Homo sapiens: one gene and its partners. The protein of the gene in region 2 purifies or fractionates together with the protein of the main gene of each other region. This does not show direct contact. Each region holds a gene or a part of one and is shown on either strand. Other genes may lie near its edges.

Evidence for each region. The genes of interacting proteins can lie anywhere in the genome.
Region 1: the proteins of GPR161 (region 2) and PRKACA purify together in Homo sapiens (affinity purification with mass spectrometry; 4 studies listed by BioGRID and IntAct, with this or other methods). This does not show direct contact.
Region 3: the proteins of GPR161 (region 2) and PRKACB purify together in Homo sapiens (affinity purification with mass spectrometry; 3 studies listed by BioGRID and IntAct, with this or other methods). This does not show direct contact.

The regions. Positions count from the first base shown.
Region 1 is NC_000019.10:14,107,763-14,114,762, reverse strand, and holds part of PRKACA (cAMP-dependent protein kinase catalytic subunit alpha), read left to right. Parts: intron 1-571; exon of another isoform or gene 572-607; coding exon of another isoform or gene 608-629; intron 630-2,286; coding exon of another isoform or gene 2,287-2,439; intron 2,440-6,372; exon of another isoform or gene 6,373-6,778; coding exon of another isoform or gene 6,779-7,000. Other genes in the region: SMIM46 (small integral membrane protein 46), read left to right, coding at 2,287-2,439.
Region 2 is NC_000001.11:168,078,989-168,085,004, reverse strand, and holds the end of GPR161 (G-protein coupled receptor 161), read left to right. Parts: 3' UTR 1-5,463; downstream 5,464-6,016. UniProt on the Homo sapiens protein: Key negative regulator of Shh signaling, which promotes the processing of GLI3 into GLI3R during neural tube development.
Region 3 is NC_000001.11:84,196,271-84,203,270, forward strand, and holds part of PRKACB (cAMP-dependent protein kinase catalytic subunit beta), read left to right. Parts: intron 1-345; coding exon 346-472; intron 473-1,458; coding exon 1,459-1,554; intron 1,555-6,412; coding exon 6,413-6,535; intron 6,536-7,000. UniProt on the Homo sapiens protein: Mediates cAMP-dependent signaling triggered by receptor binding to GPCRs.

The sequences.
Region 1 (7,000 bases), on a different chromosome or scaffold from region 2:
CAAAGCCATTGGGAGAGCTGAGAGGGCCAAGAAAAAAGACTAAGGCCCAGGCTCTGGCCAAGTTGGAAGAATGGAGAGGGAGCAGCGGCCCCAGGGGGCAGGCGCCCAGGTCAGACAGCCAAGTGGGGCTCAGGTCGTGGCTGGCACTGGCTGAAGATACCCCTGGGAGCTGGCCCACAGGGGAAGGGGCAGAGCTAGTAAAAGGGAGCCCCCGATCCCCAGGACACAAGCAGATCCTGGCAAAGAGAGAAAAGCACCCCCCAAGAAGACCCTAGATGGGAAGAACTAGTGCCGTGTAACATCCTATGGATGCCTAAGACGGCCAAACACCTTCTGTGCCTTGGCAGTTGTATGGGTGCCCAAGAGGTCTTATCAAGGCAGCTCTCCCCTTAGCGCAACCGCGTCTACAGAAACTCGGAGGGCCCTATCTGTCCCTCCTCCACACCCAGTGGCCTCTGGGTTGGGTTTCTCTTCCTGCTCCCACCCCACGGCTCCCTAGCTCCCCCTGCAGGCAGGGTTCTGGGGACAGACAGCCGAACAGACACGGCAGGTCTCATGAGCCTTCCCAGCCACCGTAGTGCCGGTGCCCTGAGAACAGGACTGAGTGATGGCTTCCAACTCCAGCGATGGTGAGGCTGAGTCCTGTTACTATAGCAACTTCCTAGGCACACTCTGCCCCTTAAGTCAGGGAGGGGCTGCAGCGGGGTCTGGGGCACAGGCGAAGAGAAGAAGGATGTGAACCCCTGGCTGGCCCTGGAAACGCCTCCTGTACAGCCCCGGGCTGTGCGGCCTGGGGAAGAGAGAGGGGATCGGTGGCCCAGTTCAGACAAGGGAGGATGGTCCACCCGGCAGGGGGCCAGCTCAGAGAGGGGTGGTGGAGTGGTCCATCCCAGTGTTGGGGTTCAGCTCAGACTGTAGGATGAGCCATCCCAGTGTTGGGGTCCAGCTCAGAATGGGGGTCGTTCCAGCCAGTGTTGGGGTCCAGCTCAGAGTTGTGTCATTTAGGTAAGCCCAGAGCAGGGAATCCAGGCTCCACTGGAGGAATCAGCCAGCCTCGAGTAGGGGGCCCAGCCCAGGCTGGGCATTCCTGCCCCAGAATTCCCAGGACAGCCAGATTTCAAAAGGGCAGAAGGTCTGAGATTGTTGTCCGGAGGAAGGGGGTTCTGTGGCTGGGCTCCTTCCGAGAGAGACCCCAAGCCCCTTGCCCAAATTGATATTCTGCTGTTGCAATTCCCCATTCCCAGGGCGAGTTTCTAGATTTCTGCTTTCTGCTGTGGTCCTGGCTTTTCAAGGGGTGTCAAGGAGTTTTCCCTATGAACCCAAATGGAATCTGGACCAGAGTGAGAGCTGGCACCCCCCGTGTGGGAGATGTGGGCAGGGCGGCAGGCTGTACAGGCCAGCAGCTGGCTGGGTTACCATCCTCTGCCACTTCCTGTTGCTAGCAGGGGTCCTGGATGCCGGGCACACTCAAAGAGGCTGCCACTGACCCTCTGCTTCTTTTGGGATCTGGAAAGAAGGAGGAAGATGGTCAAGGCTGCCTCCCCCTCCCCCACCCCTGGGTTTAGCCGCTCGTTTCCGGTTTGGACTTTCATGGCCGAGAGTAGAGCCAAGCACAGGGCAAGGTTTGAGAGAGGCCAAGGACATCCCGGGATGCCTTTCCCCTCTCCACCCCCGCATAGGAGCAAAACAAAAGAGTCAGATATACCCATTTTCTCTCTCAGGATAGCAGGATTTGGGGGTTCCACATTGAAAGGGAGTTCAGGGGAGGAGGCAGGGTGGCTCTTGTCGCCCCCCGCCCCAAGCCTTTCTCTCCAGCTGTTCTTTCAGCGAATTAAGGGAGCTCTGGGGCCTCTTTAGCCCCTAAGGAGTCTCTGGCTGTTGCCTGATCCTGAACCTTAACTCTTTCCCCTCTGCCCAGTGGGCACTGCTCTGGGCACATCAGGCGCTGTCCTCTGCACAGTCCAGTGCCCACTGAGGAAGGCAGGGCCTGGCGTCCTGGGAGCAGTGAAGTCCGTGGAAAGGGAAGTTAGTTTTATCGCCCCGCCCTGGGGCACGCAGGCCAGCCAGAGGGACACCCTCGGGAGAATCTTCCCATTGCCTCCTGCCAAGGGAGCCCTCTGCAAACCTTGGCTAGCTTGGAGCAGGTACCTTTAAAAGCTTCTGTGGCAACCAGCTCCTCCTCCCTGGTCCCCTGAGGCCATCCCAAGGAAGCTGACTTAGAGGCTCTGCGTTTTCCTGGTTTCTCAGCAAAAGGAAGATTCCAGGGAGAGCCCAAGGGGGCTGGGGATGGATCTGGGATCAGGCAGCAGCCAGGGTGGGGACTTGGAGACCACCTTCCAGCTGTGGCTGCAGCTGCTCCTCTGGGCCCACCTGGCTGTACGTTTCCTGGGCTACCTGCACCGCACCTTCCGGGGGCCTAAGCCACAGCCAGCACCCTGAGCCTCCCTGGCCAGGGGGCAGAAGGCCGCCAGATCACCCCATCCCACCCACCCTTTATTCTACCCTTTCCTGGAAGAGACAGGAAGCAGAGGTGAGTGTGGGGCCTCTTGATTGAGGTTACCTGCCCCTCCCCCCCATCATCCCTCTCTCTGCCTGCTCCTCCTGGCACTGGCCTCCCCCATGCCCCATCCCCAAATCTGACAAGCTAACAGGGCTAGTGGCACCAGAGGGGACAGAGCCTGGGCGCTCTGGTCCTTTGAGAGGCCAGAGAAGGGCCATGCTAACAGCAAGGCACCCTGTGGAGCGACTCTGTGGGGCACCAGCGGACAGCCAGGGGCTGGGAGCTCAGCGAGTCGGGGAGGTGCAGGATTCAGCAATTCTTTCCTTTTTGCTAAGAGCAAAGGGAAAACGGACCAGACCTTTTGGATTCCCTTCAAGCCTGGCACCTCTCTGCCTTCTTGTGTGGGTGAAGGTAGAATCCCAAGAGGGCACCCTCCACCCTCCCCACCCACTGCTGAATTCTGTGTGGATTATTTGGAGGTTTCCAAGGAAGATGTTTTCTGTCACAAAGGTTCTATGACTGAAGCCAGGCACAGTGGCTCATGCCCGTAATCCCAGCACTTTGGGAGACTAAGGTGGGGGAATCCATTGAGGCCAGAAGTTGGAGACCAGCCTGGGCAACATAGCAAGACCCCATCTCAAAACAAAATAAAACACTCAAACAAAGGTTCTGCTAGTGAAAGTGTTGGATTTGGTGTGACCCCCAGGCTCAGGCCCCTGGGCTAGTTGGTGGCCCAGCCAGGCACCCATCTAGGACTCCTGGCCATTCATTGCCTATCCCCTCTCCGCCTGGTCATTTATTGTGGGGCCTTCTTGGCCACGGTCTCTCTCCATCTGCCATCTACCACTTTCTTTTTTTTTTTTTTGAGACAGAGTTTCACTCTTGTTGTCCAGGCTGGAGTGCAATGGCGCGATCTGAGCCCACTGCAACCTCTGCCTCCCGGGTTCAAGCAATTCTCCTGCCTCAGCCTCCTGAGTAGCTGGGATTACAGGCATGTGCCACCACGCCCAGCTAATTTTGTATTTTTAGTAGAGACAGGGTTTCTCCATGTTGGTCAGGCTGGTCTCAAACTCCCAACCTCAGGTGATCTGCCTGTCTCAGCCTCCCAAAGTGCTGGGATTACAGGCGTGAGCCACTGCACCCAGCCACCATCTACCACTTTCTAGCTCCATGAGGGCTCTTCTCTCTGAATGCTGAGGGAAAGCTCTGGAGACAGGTAGTGGGGGTGGCTCCCCACAAGGCCATGTGGGATTACTGGCAGGCAGATAACCAGCAATGCCAAAGGGCAAGTGTACAGGGCCCCTCGGTGGCAGCAAACCCAGGAACATCAGGGGGTTGAAGGCAGCTCTGTCCACATTGGCCACCCTGGTGCACTGGACTCAGCACTGAAACCAATGGCTGAGTTGGCAGTGAAGTAGTTAATCTCATGGGATGTGGGGGCAGGCAAGTGACCTCAGACCTGATCAGTCTTCTCCTCTGTACAGTGGGAATAACAGCAGCTCCCACCCCACAGGGTGAGAACGAAGCATAGAAAATACTCAGCAAGGGGCTGGTCCCTTGTAGCCCTAGGTGGTGGTTAAAAGGACAAGTCCATAATGCAAGAATCTGTCAGGCTGCGCATTTAAGATTTGAGCACTCAGTGTATCTCCTATATTTGTTTTTGGGGTTTTTTTATTATTACTTTTTTTTTTGAGACAGGGCCTCACTCTGTCACCCAGCCTGCAGTGTAATGGCTCAGTCACGGCTCACTGCAGGCTCTATGTCCCGGGCTTGAACAATCCTCCCACCTCTGCCTCCTGAGTAGCTGGGACTACAGGTGCATACCACCACACCTGGCTAATGTTTTTATTTTTTGTAGAGGGTTTTGATGTTGTCCAGGCTGGTCTCGAATTCCTGTATTCAAGCAATCCCCCCAACTCGGCCTCCCAGAGTATTATTATTTTTTTGAGAAAGAGTCTCACTCTTGCTCAGGCTGGAGTGTAGTGGTGTGATCATAGCTCACTGCAACCTCAATCTCCTGGGCTTTAAGCAATCTTCCTGCCTCAGCCTCCTGCTTAGCTGAAACTGCGGGCATGGGCCACTATGCTCAGCTAATTTTTTAATTGTTTTATTTTTTGTAGAGATTGGGTCTTGCTATGTTGCCAAGGCTGGTCTCTAATTCCAGGCCTCAAGCGATCCTCCAACCTCGGCCTTCTAAAGCACTGGGATTACAGGCATGAGCCACCGTTCCCGGCTCTCCCTATGTGTGTGTGTGTGTGTGTGTATATATATATATATATATATATATATATATATATTTTTTTTTTTTTTTTTTTTTTTTTTTTTGAGACAGAGTCTCACTCTGTCGCCTAGGCTGGAGTGCAGTGGCATGATCTCAGCTCACTGTAACCTCTGCCTCCCAAGTTCAAGAGATTTTCCTGCCCCAGCCTCCCAAATAGCTGGGATTACAGGCATGCGCCACCGTGCCCAGCTAATTTTTGTATTTTTAGTAGAGACGGGGTTTCACCATGTTGGCCAGGCTGGTTTCAAACTCCTGACCTCAAGTGATCTGCCTGCCTCGGCCTCCCAAAGTGCTGGGATTATAGACGTGAGCCACCATGCCCGATCGCTCCCCATATTTTCTTTTCTTTTTTCTTTTTTTTTTCTTAGACGAGTCTTGCTCTGTCACCCAGGCTGGAGTGCAGTGGTGCAATCTCGGCTCACTGCAACCTCAGTCTCCCGGATTCAAGCAATTCTCCTGCCTCAGCCTCCCAGGTAGCTAGGATTACAGGCACACATCACCACCACGCCTGGCTAATTTTTTTGTTTTGTTTTGGAGACAGAGTCTCGCCCCGTCGCCTAGGCTGGAGTGCAATGGCATGATCTCAGCTCACTGCAACTTCTGCCTCCCGGGTCGAAGCGATTCTCCTGCCACCATGCCCGGCTGATTTTTTTGTACTTTTAGTAGAAACGGGGTTTTACCATGTTGACCACGCTGGTCTTGAACTCCTGACCTCAAGTGATCTACCCGCCTTGGCCTCCCAAAGTGCTGGGATTATAGGTGTGACCCACCGTGCCTGGCCTCATTTTTTTATTTTTAGTAGAGATGGGGTTTCGCCATGTTGGCCAGGCTGGTCTCGAACTCCTGACCTTGTGATCCACCCACCTTGGCCTCCCAGAGTGCTGGGATTACAGACGTCAGCCACCTCACCCAGCCTCTCTCCCCATATTTTATACCTCAATTTAGAAAATAATAGGCTGGGCACGGTGGCTCATGCCTGTAATCCCAGCACTTTGGGAGGCCAAGGTGGGCAGATCACCTGAGGTCAGGAGTTCGAGACCAGCCTAGCCAACATGGCAAAACCCTGTCTCTACTAAACATACCAAAATTAGCTGGGCGTGGTGGCAGGTGTCTGTAATCCCAGCTACTCAGGAGGCTGAGGCAGGAGAATCATCTGAACCTGGGAGGCGGAGGTTGCAGTGAGCTGAGATTGTGCCACTGCACTCCAGCCTGGGCAACAAAGTGGGACTCCATCTCAAAAAAAAAAATAATAATAATTAAAAAAAATAAATTGGCCGGGCATGGTGGCTCACGCCTGTAATCCCAGCACTTTGGGAGGCCGAGGCGGGTGGATCACGAGGTCAGGAGATCGAGACCATCCTGGCTAACACGGTGAAACCCCGTCTCCACTAAAAAAAATACAAAAAATTCTCTGGGCGTGGTGGCAGGCGTCTGTAGTCCCAGCTACTCAGGAGGCTGAGGCAGGAGAATGGCGTGAGCACGGGAGGCGGAGCTTGCAGTGAGCGGAGATTGCGCCACTGCATTCCAGCCTGGGCGACAGAGGGAGACTCCGTCTCAATCAATCAATCAATCAATCAGTCAATAGATAGATAAATAAAAAATAATAATAGCTGACATTTATCTGGCACTATCATCACACGGGGCCACTGTTCAACTCCCTTTGTCAAGATGAACTCATTCATTCCTCAAAACCACCCCACTTTACAGATGAGGAAAACTGAGGCCTAGAGAGGTGAGATCAGTTACCCAAAGTCACAGAGTTCATCAGAGACCAGGCTGGGCTCTGAACTGGATCTTGACCCCAAGTCCTGGCCCTTAGCCACTTTGCTGGGCTGTGTCTCAGCAGAGACGAGAATGACTGTTTTCAAGCCTGTTTCCTGGGTTGTTAAGTGGAGACAATGGATACAAGGCAGGTTGCCGAGTGAGTCAGATGAGACAGTGTAGACAGCAGCCGGCACAGGGTCTGCCGGGGAAGTTTCAACATTAGCCAGGCGGTGATGTTCACCTTGGGATACCATGGGGCCGAGGAGTGGGCATCGGGCGAGACTTCCCTTGAACCAGCTCTGGAGCAATGCCCTTGCGATTGCCACGGAGAGGAACAGGGCCAGCTGGGGGCCAAGGTGACAGCTGAGCCCCCCAAGGGCACCTGCTACCCGAGCCCCCGAGGCCTCCATCCCAGGCCCGGCCTCCCCAGAGAAGGGGCCAGAGGAACAGCCAAA
Region 2 (6,016 bases):
CTCAGTTCTAGGACTGGTCCGCAGAGAAAGCACCCAGGAGCAGAGCGCTTCGGAGCGGTCCTCAGTGGCGCCACCTGCTGGTGCTAATAGGGACAGCCACAGGCCTCTTGCAGACTGGCCCACCCTGCCTACTTCCCTACTGACAAGTTCTTTGGTATTTCAAAAGGGAGAAACCACTATAAAAGACAAGAGGAAGGGCAGGTACTAGGTGTTTCATTTCCAGAATTAAAAAAAAAATCCATTTAAGACGTACCACTGTTTTACCGGACTGAATGGGACTGTAGTGCCAAGCACAGCCAGGAAATAGAGAAACTGTTATTATGGAAGGGAATTTGTTCACATGGGAAAGCCTCATTAAATAGATTCTATGTGTGATGTTTGAGTGACCAATGAAAATAGCTGGCCTCAGTTCTGCATGGCACACTCCCAAGAGCAACAGTTACTATTATCACAAGCCTGGTATAAATAAGATAGAAGCAGCCCTGGACCCACAGCCAGCAACCTGGGTTATTGGCCCAGCTCTGTCTTTGTGTGCACATGTCATTTGGACATCTTGTCACCTTTCTAGGTCCTCTGTAAAGTGGGAAAACAGAGTGGAGTTGGATTGAATGGTCTCCAAGATCATTTCCAGCTCTGACCTTTGGTGTTCTCAGGATTTGTAAAGCAGAGATAGGTAAAACACAAAAGCAGACCCACGGACCGACCTTTGTATAACTTTGGAGTGTGGTTGCTCATGCACATGTGAAGTGCAGGCAGATCAAGGTTCTGTGGCTTTGTCTGCCCTGTCCATTAGAGCACAATCTGGATAGAATGCCAGCCACCAAGATGCATGAGGGGCAGGGTCACCATCTCAGAAGGGGAAGCACAGGAATGTGATTGGGATGGTTAAACCTCTCTTCTCCTCCCTTTGTGCTGGAACAGCAGTTGAAGTTTGGTCCTGGAGTAATTGCTGTGATGACTTGGGAAGCCACTGATCTCCTCTTGCGTCTGCCCTTGGCCTGCATCATGACTAAATAAGTTCAGGACTTCTCTGCTTTGGTTGGCAGAAGGTAGATTCCAAGGAGATCTTGCTGGTTGCTGAGAGGCAGCTGTTCTAGAAAGTGAATTACCCTTGTGGTTTTTTCTTTGGGGCCCAGCTAGCTCCTGGTGAGGTTGTGTTTTTGTGTTGTGTGGCAGAAACCAATGGTTAGCTGGTCCCCTGGTCTGCAGTTTGTAAAAGACCTTTCATGAGGCCTGGAGTCTTGCTACCTGTGGTGATTGAACTCAACTATTCTGGGTCACCTGGATGCCAGGCGCTGGCCTAGCTTCTGGATGGGAGTGGGAAGGAGCAGAGGGCAGGTTCACCTGTGCAGGTCAGACACTCTGCTTCCATCACTGGATGGCATTCCTACGTCTGCGTGTGGTTCACGTTTTCTATATATATTCCCTGTATATATTTTTTTCTAGCACTTGTCTACTTTCTGAAGGGACCATATTCCTGATCAACTAGTGTGCACAGAGGTGGAACAGGGCAGAGAGACCTTTATCTCTAGGATGGGTTGCTGGTTAGGTGTAGGCATTCTTGAGTGCAGCAGCTTGGCTTTGAAACGCAAGGGTTGGAGAATGTTCCCCTGACTGTACTAGACTGGGCTCTAGGGAAAGAATCCTGAGACAGCCCCCCACTCCCCCACTGACCCCACACTAGCTGGGCTATTATAGAATTTAATCTAAATCTAGAAATACTGCATTTCACAAAATGATTCACTGTGTTTCCCTTTTTTTACTGAGGTCCAATTCATTTAGTCGTCTACCAGACACTGCACATCCAGTGTATGCGAAGCACCAGGCTAGGCTCTGTAGGCAATACCACTAAAGTGTGCACTCTGATTTAGGGAGCAGGACCTGTGGATACCGATTCTAATAACTAGCAAAGTCAAGTCGTGGTTATAGAAAGAAGTGTGGCTTCAGAGGGAGGTGGGTATTTCCAAATATGGAGTTAGGGATGGCTCCATGAGGTAAGTGACAGTTTGAGCTAAGTCTTGAAGGATGCTTGGCAGCTAGAACCATATTTTCCATATTCAGGAATTCAAATTTGCCTTTATTCAGCTAGAGAGAAAGAGAGAAGGGGGTGTGGGGGAGAAGGAAAAGAGAATTTTCACACATTTTGAAGTTCCTGAGAGCATTTCTGAGGATATCTGCCGTTAGTGCAGAAGGTCGAAACCCCAAGTGCCCCCACTAAACCCAGGCTCTTTAGCTGTAAACTGCCATGCAGTGGCAGGCCTGCAGCCTTCCTGATGGGACCACATGGACAGTGGCACATGGGACATTTGGCTACTCGTTAGCTTAAACAACTCAGTCCTGTGTCTTCTGGTTTTGACAAGACCACATTTAGGACTGCTGCCCACCTCTGCCTCTTTCATTGAGATTTCCGCCTTATTGGGTCCCTGTGCTATGCCACAGATACCAGGTTTGGGGTTGTTTTGACCCAGAAGGCATTGGGAGTCCCACATTACAGAGCACACACACAGCTCAACACAGCCATTTCCCTGGCCAGAGGCACCAAGACTGAAGTTCAGGCCCTTAGACACTAGGTGGCAGCGGTGTGGCTGTGCAGAGCCAAGGATGAACCTGAGAGCTTGTTTGCCTCTGGCTGGGCACTCTTGTTTTGAATTCCTTTGCCCTTATCGTGTAGTCCACGGCCTTGGTGACCAAGGACCACCTGGCTAGCCTGCTTACATGCATGACCCCATCCAGGTTCACAGGTATTGCCACTGAGTGATCTTAGGTAGATCACTGCTCCTGGAGAAGCAGAGTTGAGGAGTGTAAGACAAGGGCCATCTAGTGCCAATGTTCCTTGATTCTTATTTGAGGAGCTACTATGTGGTCTTTCTGTAAACAAGTGAACAACCAATGAGACTAAATATTTGCAATAGATAGGCTAAGGAATTTGGGTTGAGACAGGAGACGGAGGAAAAATGCTTTGATACAATGACAGATGGTTAGTCTCTTCAGATTTCCCTGAATATTTTCCATCCCGACAATATGCCTCTTAGATACTTGCAGATTAGACATGTCTCTGGATGGACCACAAGATACATTCACAACATGTGTTCAGCCTTGAGCCCTGGCTGTGTCCTGTCTGGAAGGAACTGAGGATGATGTGGCTATAAAGAGGAGGCAGTGAGCTGGCATGTGACTGCCTTCTGTGGGCCTGACCTGTTTGACATTTGAGGGCCTATGATGTGCTAGGTGCTGTGTTAGGTACTTCCAAATGCTTTATCTCATTTTACCCCAGTGCAAGTGTGATATAGTGAGGATGGTGAAGACGTGGGTATGGTTAAGTCATGAGTTCAGATCCCGTGCTTCCAATTACATGGGTGTTTTCAAACAAGTCACTACTTATGAGTTTCCTCATCTGTGAAGGGAAGTTTAGTCATCTGTTTCAATGTGGAGACACACAGGATTGAGGGAGTCCTCCGTCACAGGGTGACTGTCTGGATTCTATGAGGAAATACTTGGAAAGCATGCAGCACAATGCCTGGGGTGCAGCTGAAGCTGAGCCACTGGTGTTTCTTCACAGTATCTCTGTGGGGAGGGTGTATTATTCCTTTTTATAGGGATCTCTATAATGAAGTGAGAATCTTGAAAATATAAGTGTTATCCTAGATGGGAGGTGTTAAAGGTTTTTGCCTTGGGAATTTTGTCATATTTGTTGCACAGCAAGGAAGGACTTTCAGAAAAGCAGGGATGTGGTGAGGAAGAGCAGGCAATAGAGAGCAGGGAGGAAAGGCTAAGTAGCATCTGGAACTTGAGAAGTCTAAGGGAGCCAAAATGAGATTTTCTATTAAAAATGTCTATCCTCAGCCGGGCGTGGTAGCTCACGCCTGTAATCCCAGCACTTTGGGGGGTCGAGATGGGCAGATCACCTGAGGTCAGGAGTTCGAGACCAGCCTGACCAATATGGAGAAACCCCGTCTCTACTAAAAATACAAAATTAGTTGCGCGTGGTGGTGGGCGCCTGTAATCCCAGCTACTCAGGAGCCTGAGGCAGGAGAATCACTTAAACCCAGGAGGCGGAGGTTGCAGTGAGCCGAGATCGCGCCATTGCACTCCAGCCTGGGCAACAAGAGCGAAACCCCGCCTAAAAAAAGAAAAAAAAGAAAAAGTCTATCCTCTATGCTACTGGCCTGTTTGTACAAAGATAAAATCATTCTAATTTGTCCGGAATGACTATCAAAGATGATCAAATCCCCAGGGCCTGGTGTAACGTTCCAAATCATAGCACAAATACAGCTTGACCTTCCTTACAGTCCAGAAAGGACATTCTCCCTGAGAAATGCCCTTGGTTGCTGAGGACAGCTCTGTCCTGTAGTGACAGAGTGACTGCCTGGCTGTGGCTCTTGGGTTCACAGAATCCCTAATCCTCCAAGCCCCTAAGAGGCAGGGCAGGGATGCTACCCACAATATATGCAGAACCCCAGATGGAGCCTGTGGGAGAGAGAGGAAATTACCGTCTTCACTGTAGGCAAAGGAGAATGGCTGTGATTAGCCATATATGCCTATAAGAAGGAGCAGAGCCATACTGTCCTTGTGGGTTGGGAGAGGGGACACAGAATCCAGGGCAATTGTCTGAGGTCTCAAAGTAAGTTAAGCCAGAGTCAAAGCCAAACTCCAAGTCTTGGCCAAGGGGATGAGAAAAGCAAGGAGCTAGTCTTATAGGTCAAGGAAGATGAGGTATAGTTAAGAGTCATCAGTATCACAGAACAGGCCAGCAGGGCTTTATTAGGTATGTAGAACTATTATAAACCAAGGATCTTGGGAGATATTAATATCTGCTGGCCAGACCTAAAAAAAACTGAAGGCCCAAGGAAAGTGACTGGACTCACTGGAAAGTATCTAACAAATACTTTGGATTCCAAAGTATTTCCAATACCTTGAAGATTCCTTTGAAAACATCAAAGCACAAACTCAAATCTGCACAAGATTACAAAAGCACAATTTTGGTGTTATTTTTAGAATGCAATACACAAAGCTATGTTCATTTCTCTCAGCAAGCATTTTCCTGGGTAGTAGTAATAGCTTAGGAATCAAATGCCACTTTTGTTTTTCCTTTTTTCACTAGTTTGAAATACCACAAATCACAGGTGAGTCAGTCCTCCCAGAGGAAAAGACAGTCCTAGGGAGAATCACAGGCCTGGCAGACAAGACCACACTGAGAGCAGTAGAAGGAACCTGCATGCTTAAGGGACAGAGGACTGTGTTGTGTTCTCATAATAGACCGCTGGATGAAGAAGTGGTTAAAAACCAACCCTCGAAAAACAAAAATCCCTGGCTAATCCTGAAATATATTTAACTTGAAGTCTTTGGATGATTTTTTTAAGGTTAAAAAAAAGTTTAGGATTATTATAAATCAATATTTATAAATAAGCAACAATGTATTTGGAATTTTTGTTTACCTGATTAAATATGTTTTTGGTATGTGTATACTGTGGAAATGGTGAATTTGTACTTGGACTTGTGGTCTGTGGACTTTGTTGGGTGCCTCTGCCTTTCTCCCATTTTCTGCAGCCATATCCCTATTGTCAACCTCCCTTCCCATGGGCTAAAGCGAGGGAGACTGAGCAGAAAGGGGTGGATTACTGCAGAATTGGTGGGGGAGTGCCCATACCAGAGTCACCTGCAAATACTCATCCATGCATTTTCATAAATTCCTCCAAGGCAATTAAATTCAGATAACTGTTTAAATGACCTACTTCTCACCATGCCCAAGAAACACTCTTAACCCAGAGTTTTTATGGGAGCTATGCCCTGTCTATCCATCTACAGATGTATTTTCTACCCCATAATCAAAAGTCAAAGAGGGCAAGAGGCAGATTATCGTTACCATTGAGACTCAGAACCACCTCGGGGCACGAAACCCACCTTTTCCTGACCCCCTTACCTGCTACCACTGAAATCATCTTCCAAGTGGATGGTGGCCCTACGGTCCAGTTTGCTGAGCTTTCTGGGGTCCTCTGACACACACCCAATCTTGGAA
Region 3 (7,000 bases), about 84 Mb from region 2:
TCCATTTGGCACATTTGCTTTCCAATTATTCTCAAGATCAGACATAATTAGAAAGACATCAATATATTTAAATATGGGCAATAATGATTCACAATGAGCTAACTATTTTAGGTTTATATTTTTCCTCAACATATGCTTCCCCATAAATTTATCAGAGCGTTATTTGAACAAAATATAGAGATTTAATAAATATTTGAAAAGTAACAAGGTTCTTTACATACTTTTTAAAAAAATACTTTTTGTTCCCAAAGTACCTCTACTTCATATTAGTTTTTATGCATAATCTACTAATTAGAATGTATTAACTCATTTTTACAGAAAATCAATGGTTTTATTTCTTTGCAGTGAGCCCCATGCACGGTTCTATGCAGCTCAGATAGTGCTAACATTCGAGTACCTCCATTCACTAGACCTCATCTACAGAGATCTAAAACCTGAAAATCTCTTAATTGACCATCAAGGCTATATCCAGGTATGACTTTAACACATTATGTGTACTGTATATGAGAAAATACTAGGCAAGACATTGTATGTATGTAACCCCAACTTGGAATTTTTTTTGAAGAAGACACTTTCTCCTAATAGTTTAAGTAGAGCTCAGAGTTTTGCTGCTATTACAGAGAAGCAAAAATCCTGTTATGAAAGGAACTTGTTTATATCTCCATTAATCTATAGTTGTGAACTGAGTATAGCCTCTTGCATAAGGAGATATTAATAGCTAAATCTATGAGCAGTTATTAGTGCCAGGCATATTCCACTTGTTTTACATGTATTATTTCTTTAATCCTGATAAACCTATGAAGTGGAAATACCATTGTTATCTTCATTTTAAGATTAACAAAACTAAGACATAGCAAGGTCATTTAGCCAATAAATGGTAGAGTCAGAATTTGAACCTAGGCAGTCTGATCCCAGAGTCCATGCCCTTTACGACTACAATATAACTGCCAAAGAATCCCTGACTACCAATACTGAACTCGTAGCAACGTTTTCTTTCCACTTCTACTACTAATAAAGTGGGAGCATTTCTTTTTACACAATTATTGATAGATTCTCCCATTGACGTTTTTACACTTCTGATGGTGCAACTAATGGCAGAGGACACATTGGGGTAAGGCAGACATTTAGCATTGTTTCATTTTTATTAATGCTATTTATTTTTACCTTTTATTTTCACTTTTTTATTCCTTGGGTCTAGGATCTTATAATAATGACTGAAAAGAGTTTTGTTGTTATTAATTTGTTCCTTTTCTTTGAGTTGAGGAAGGATTTCCAACTTGGATTGTTTAAACTTTCATTCACTAGATATTCATGAATGAATTTCAATTACGTGGACTTAATTTTTTTTCCATTTCTTTCATAGTTTCAATTTGAATTTTAAACTTTCAACGTAGGTGCAATAAATACATTTATTGTGAGGTAATACATTTTCACTAGTATTCTTTTTTTCTTTTATAGGTCACAGACTTTGGGTTTGCCAAAAGAGTTAAAGGCAGAACTTGGACATTATGTGGAACTCCAGAGTATTTGGCTCCAGAAATAATTCTCAGCAAGGTATATTCATAATATCAACACATAAGAAGTAGAAATATGAGACATGCATCCCTATGGACTTTTGTAAAAACAGTTTATTGATCTAATTTTACATTTTTAATTTGATCTAAGTTATGAATTTAAATCTATTTGTGCATGATTACTAAAGAATTATTATTTAGCATCTACCACTAATCCTGTAACCTCTGTCAATTTTAACTCTGGGTCTTAGAGATATAATATGAATAAATATGACCTCTAGATCCATGTTTTGCAACCAAAAACATAGTCTTTTCTTAATTATTCCTAGTAACGGAAGGGTAGAGAAGACTTGCTCTGGATTATACCAAGAGGTAAATCTAGAGATGATATGTACTAGTTGTCCATTCTTTCTTTGTTTCAAATTTACCAGTTAAATAAAAGGAATGTATGAGAAGTGTTTTTAAATTTTAAATAGGACTATTAACAGCAATTGAATAGTTTTAGTCTTATTGAAGGCAGCTCTGCTTTTCTAAATAGTGAAACGTGGTGAGAGAAACTGTACCTATATCCAAAAGAATGGTTAACTTTTCCTCTGCCATCACTTGGTGGAGAAATCTAGAAAGGAGAACCTAACAATAACCAGGCACAAATAGGAGAGAGGAAAAGGAAGGGGATAAGACACATGCTTCACTGGTTCCCAAATGGAATCATTGAAATATGGCTAACTTATAGAAGTGTTAAAATAAAAGATTTCTTTCAACTTTTCTCTCATTATCTTTCATAATTTAAATAATATGTAACTTCTTGATATTTTATAATCTAAATATCATTGTAGTTAACACATTTCTTTAAATACAGTTAACAAATAATGGGACAACAAAATGAGCACTAAAACTTTTACAAATGTGTATATATTGTAAAAGTAATACTCATTATACAAAATTTAGAAAATACAGAAAAACATAAACAAACAACCAAAAAAAAACCTATATGTAATCCCACCAACCTAGACGCAGCCTTTTTAAAAACATTCATATATGTATGTACATATATGTATATATGTGTATATGTGTATATATATACACCACATATATGTGTATATATGTGTATATATATACACATATGTGTGGTGTGTGTGTATATATGTATATGTGTATATATACATATATATTCATATATATGTGTATACGCATATATGTATATATGTATATGTGTATATATACATATATGCGTATATATACACATATATACGCATATGTATGCATATATATATGCGTATATATGCATATATGTATATATATGCGTATATATGCATATATGTATATATATGCATATATATATATATATACACACACATTTTAGCTTTATTTTAGCTTTCATTTTAGGTTCAGGGATACATGTGAAGGTTGGTTACAGACGTAAACTCATGTCATGGGGGTTTGTTATACAGATTATTTCATCACTCAGGAATTAAGCCCAGTACCCATAGTTATCTTTTCTTATCCTCTCCCTCCTCCCTACCTCCACCCTCAAGTAGAATCCAGTATCTGTTTTTTCCTTCTTTGTCTTCATAAATTCTCATCATTTAGCTCCCACTTACAAGTGAAAACATGTGGTATTTGGTTTTCTGTTCTGCATTAGTTTGCTGAGGATGATAGCCTCCAGCTCCATCCATGTTCATGCAAAAGACATGATCTCATTCCTTTTTATAGCTGCATAGTATTCCGTAGTGTATATGTACCACATTTTCTTTGTCTAGTCTACAATTGGTGGACATGTAGGTTGATTCCATGTCTTTGCTTTTGTGAATAGTGCCACAATGAATAAACAAATGCATGTGTCTTTATGATGAAATGATTTATAATCCTCTGGGTGTATACCCAGTAGTGGGATTGCTGGGTCGAATGGTAGTTCTGCTTTTAGCTCTTTGAGGAATCTCCATACTGCTTTCCACAATGGTTGAACTAATTTACACTCCTACCAACAGTGTCTAAGTGTTCACTTTTCTCTGCAACCTTGCCAGCATCTGTTATTTTTTGACTATTTGTTTATTTATTTATTTATTTATTTATTTTCTGGAGATGGAGTCTTGCTCTGTCGCCCAGGCTGCAGTGCAGTGGCGTGATCTCGGTTCACTACAACCTCTGCCTCCTGAGTTCAAGCGATTCTCGTGCTTCAGGCTCCCAAGTAGCTGGGACTACCGGCATGCACTACAACACCTGGTTAATTTTTGTATTTTTTAGTAGAGACAGGGTTTCACCATATTGGTCAGGCTGGTCTTGAACTCCCGACCTCAAGTGGTGCACCCTCCTTGGCCTCTCAAAGTGCTGGGATTACAGGGGTGAGCCACTATGCCCTTCCATTTTTTTACTTTTTAGTAATAGCCATTCTGACTGGTGTGGAATGGTATCTCATTGTGGTTTTGACTTGCTTGCATTTCTCTAATGATCGGTGATATTGAGCATTTTTTCATATCTTTGTTGGCCGCATGTATGTCTTGTTTTAGAAAGTGTCAGTTCATGTCCTTTGCCCACCTTTTCATGGGGTTGTTTGTTTCTTGTAAATTTGTTTAAGTTCCTCATAGATGCTGGATATTAGACCTTTGGCAGATGCATATGGTTTGCAAATATTTTCTCCCATTCTGTAGGTTGTCTGTTTACCGTTGATAGTTTCTTTTGCTGTGCAGAATCTCTTCAGTTTAATTAGATCCCACTTGACAGTGTTTGCTTTTGTTGGAATTGCTTTTGGTGTCTTTGTCATGAAACCTTTGTCCATTCTTATGTCCAGGGTGGCATTGCCTAGGTTGTCTTTCAAGGTTTTTATACTCCGGGGTTTTGCATTTAGGTCTTTAATCCATTTTGAGTTGATTTTTGTATATGGTATAAGGAAGGGATCTATCTTCAGTCTTTTGCATGTGGCTAGCCAGTTATCCCAGCACCATTTATTGAGTAGGGAAACTTTTCCCCATTGCTTGGTTTTGTCAGCTTTGTCAAAGATCGGGTGGTCGTAGGTGTATGGACTTATTTCTGGGTTGTCATAGTTGAAATCATAGTAAATATATATAGTCTTGTCTCTGACTTTTTTCACTTTTATAATAACAAGCATGCAAACATCATTCTAATGGCTTGTTTGTAAATGTACCATAAAATATGTAGCCACTCTTCTATCGTTGAGTGTTCAGGTTTTATTTTTGATTTTTTTATTATTATAAATAACTATGATAAACATCCTTATACATAAAAGTTTTTTCCTTATTTTACATTATTTCCTTAGCATATATTCCCAGAAGTAGAATTACTGGGTCAAGGAATAGGAACATTTTTAAGGCTTTTGATACATATTGCCAAATTGCTTTCCAAAGTTATTATGCCATTTTACACTTCTACCATTAGTGTATTATAGTGCCTATTTCATAACACTATCACTGGGTATACTCATTTTTAAAATATTTACTGATTTCATAGGCAATAAATTGTATCTCATTGTTTTAATTCTCATGTTTTTTATTTATTTTTCAAATGGTTAATAGCCATTTGGTATTTCTTTATGTGTCTGTAAATTATTAGTTCATTTCCTTGGCCCATTTATCTATTGTAATTTAACATTTTTCTTATTGATGTGTTTTGATTTCTATACCTTGGGTATTAACTTGTGTCTGACATATTTACTATAAACATTAGCACACAATTTAAACATATGAATCAAAAAGTTAAAGAGAGTTAATGCCTATTTCTATTAAAAAACAAAGTGCTATTCCTGTTATACCACTCCTTCCCTTAAAAAGATATACACAGTATCAGGAAAAAAAAGAGAAAAAGAAAATCTCTATAGCGCTAAAGTATTATATTTTTGCTAGAATTTTGAAAACTAAGTAGTTTGTAAAGCTAAAATTTTGACAAAAGGGTGGAATGTGGTGAGTCGTGATGGTAGAGGGTACCTCTGAGGGCAGAGCAATAGATCTGGGTAGAATTCAGCTTATTTCTCTTCATGACAGGTTTTTGGGGTTGTTAAAAAATCTCTTGTGTCAGTTGATACTGACCATAGTTAATAAACTATATTAGCATGTTAATATGAAGATGTTATTCTTATTTATTTTCTTATGAATACTTACAAATTTTAATTTTAGTAAGCTTAATATGAAAAAAACAAACATAACCTGTGATTTTTACATTTGGTTTGCAAAGCACTTTTTACACACGTTACTCCCTTTCATTTGATACAGTCCTCACAAAACTCTGTGAATTCATTTTTTTCCTGCATATCTTTTAGATATAGGAAGCAAGACAGTAGATAGCAGAAGTAAAGTATACCTAAATATTTACATGAATTGAATTTTACATTAAACTTTTTGCTTTCACAAAATCCTATGAAGCAGATGGGATTATCCCTAGCACATTCACCCTCCTAACTCCAAAAATATAGAGTATTTTGAAGTCAACTTCATTATTTACTATGTAGTCCAGTTTCTATTATTTTCTTTGAAAACTTTTGATCTTTCTAGGCATGCTGTGGAAAATCTGTTTCATAAGATTATGGACCTAGAGTGGGCCTTAAGAAGTAATGTGGTCTAACTGCCTTCCTGTTATTGAGCAAGAACTAAATTATACCAGTGAAATAAAGAAAATTTCATTGTCTATAATATTCTTAATAATTTTAGGAAGAAGATTTAATACTCTTTCCTAATATCCAATTTCAGTATCTGGAAATCCTCTCCTTTGTTTAATTTAAATCTGACCTGATACATTTGGTTCATTTTTAAATTCTGTCCTGAATAGCTGCTCAGCAATTGCTTTAAAAAAATTTTTATATGCTTCCAGATCATTTTGAAATTATCTTTGACTTCATTCTCTTTTGAGTAACTTAAGTAACAATTGACATTGGTGTTGGTTTATCTCAGGGCTACAATAAGGCAGTGGATTGGTGGGCATTAGGAGTGCTAATCTATGAAATGGCAGCTGGCTATCCCCCATTCTTTGCAGACCAACCAATTCAGATTTATGAAAAGATTGTTTCTGGAAAGGTAAGTAAAACATTTTATTATTCCTCTCTTATTACTGTATATGAATTTTAAGCTTCATGAATTGAAACTATATTGTGTCATAATTATTATTCTACATTGGGAAAAATATAGAAAAATCTACAGTTGCTGCTCTTACTATCATAAGAATTGAATCATTTCAGTCTCTTAAGAAAAAAAGGGCAGTTTTATAAAGAAATTAACAAAACAGTAAAGCAATTTCTGTATTTAGTATTTTTATCACAAAGAACAGGATCATAGCCATAATTCTCGATATTCCTTCAAATAAATAAAAATAGTTTATTATTTCATGTGTCTATCTTCATGGAGAAAAGTTTTAGGGGCTGTTTTATATGCCCTTCCATTTTCAGGAGAGACTTCTTGTTTTAATTATGTCCAATACTATAACATTGGAAGTAAAAGTAAATATAAAATGAATAAGCCTTTTTCAGATGGAAATTTATAGAA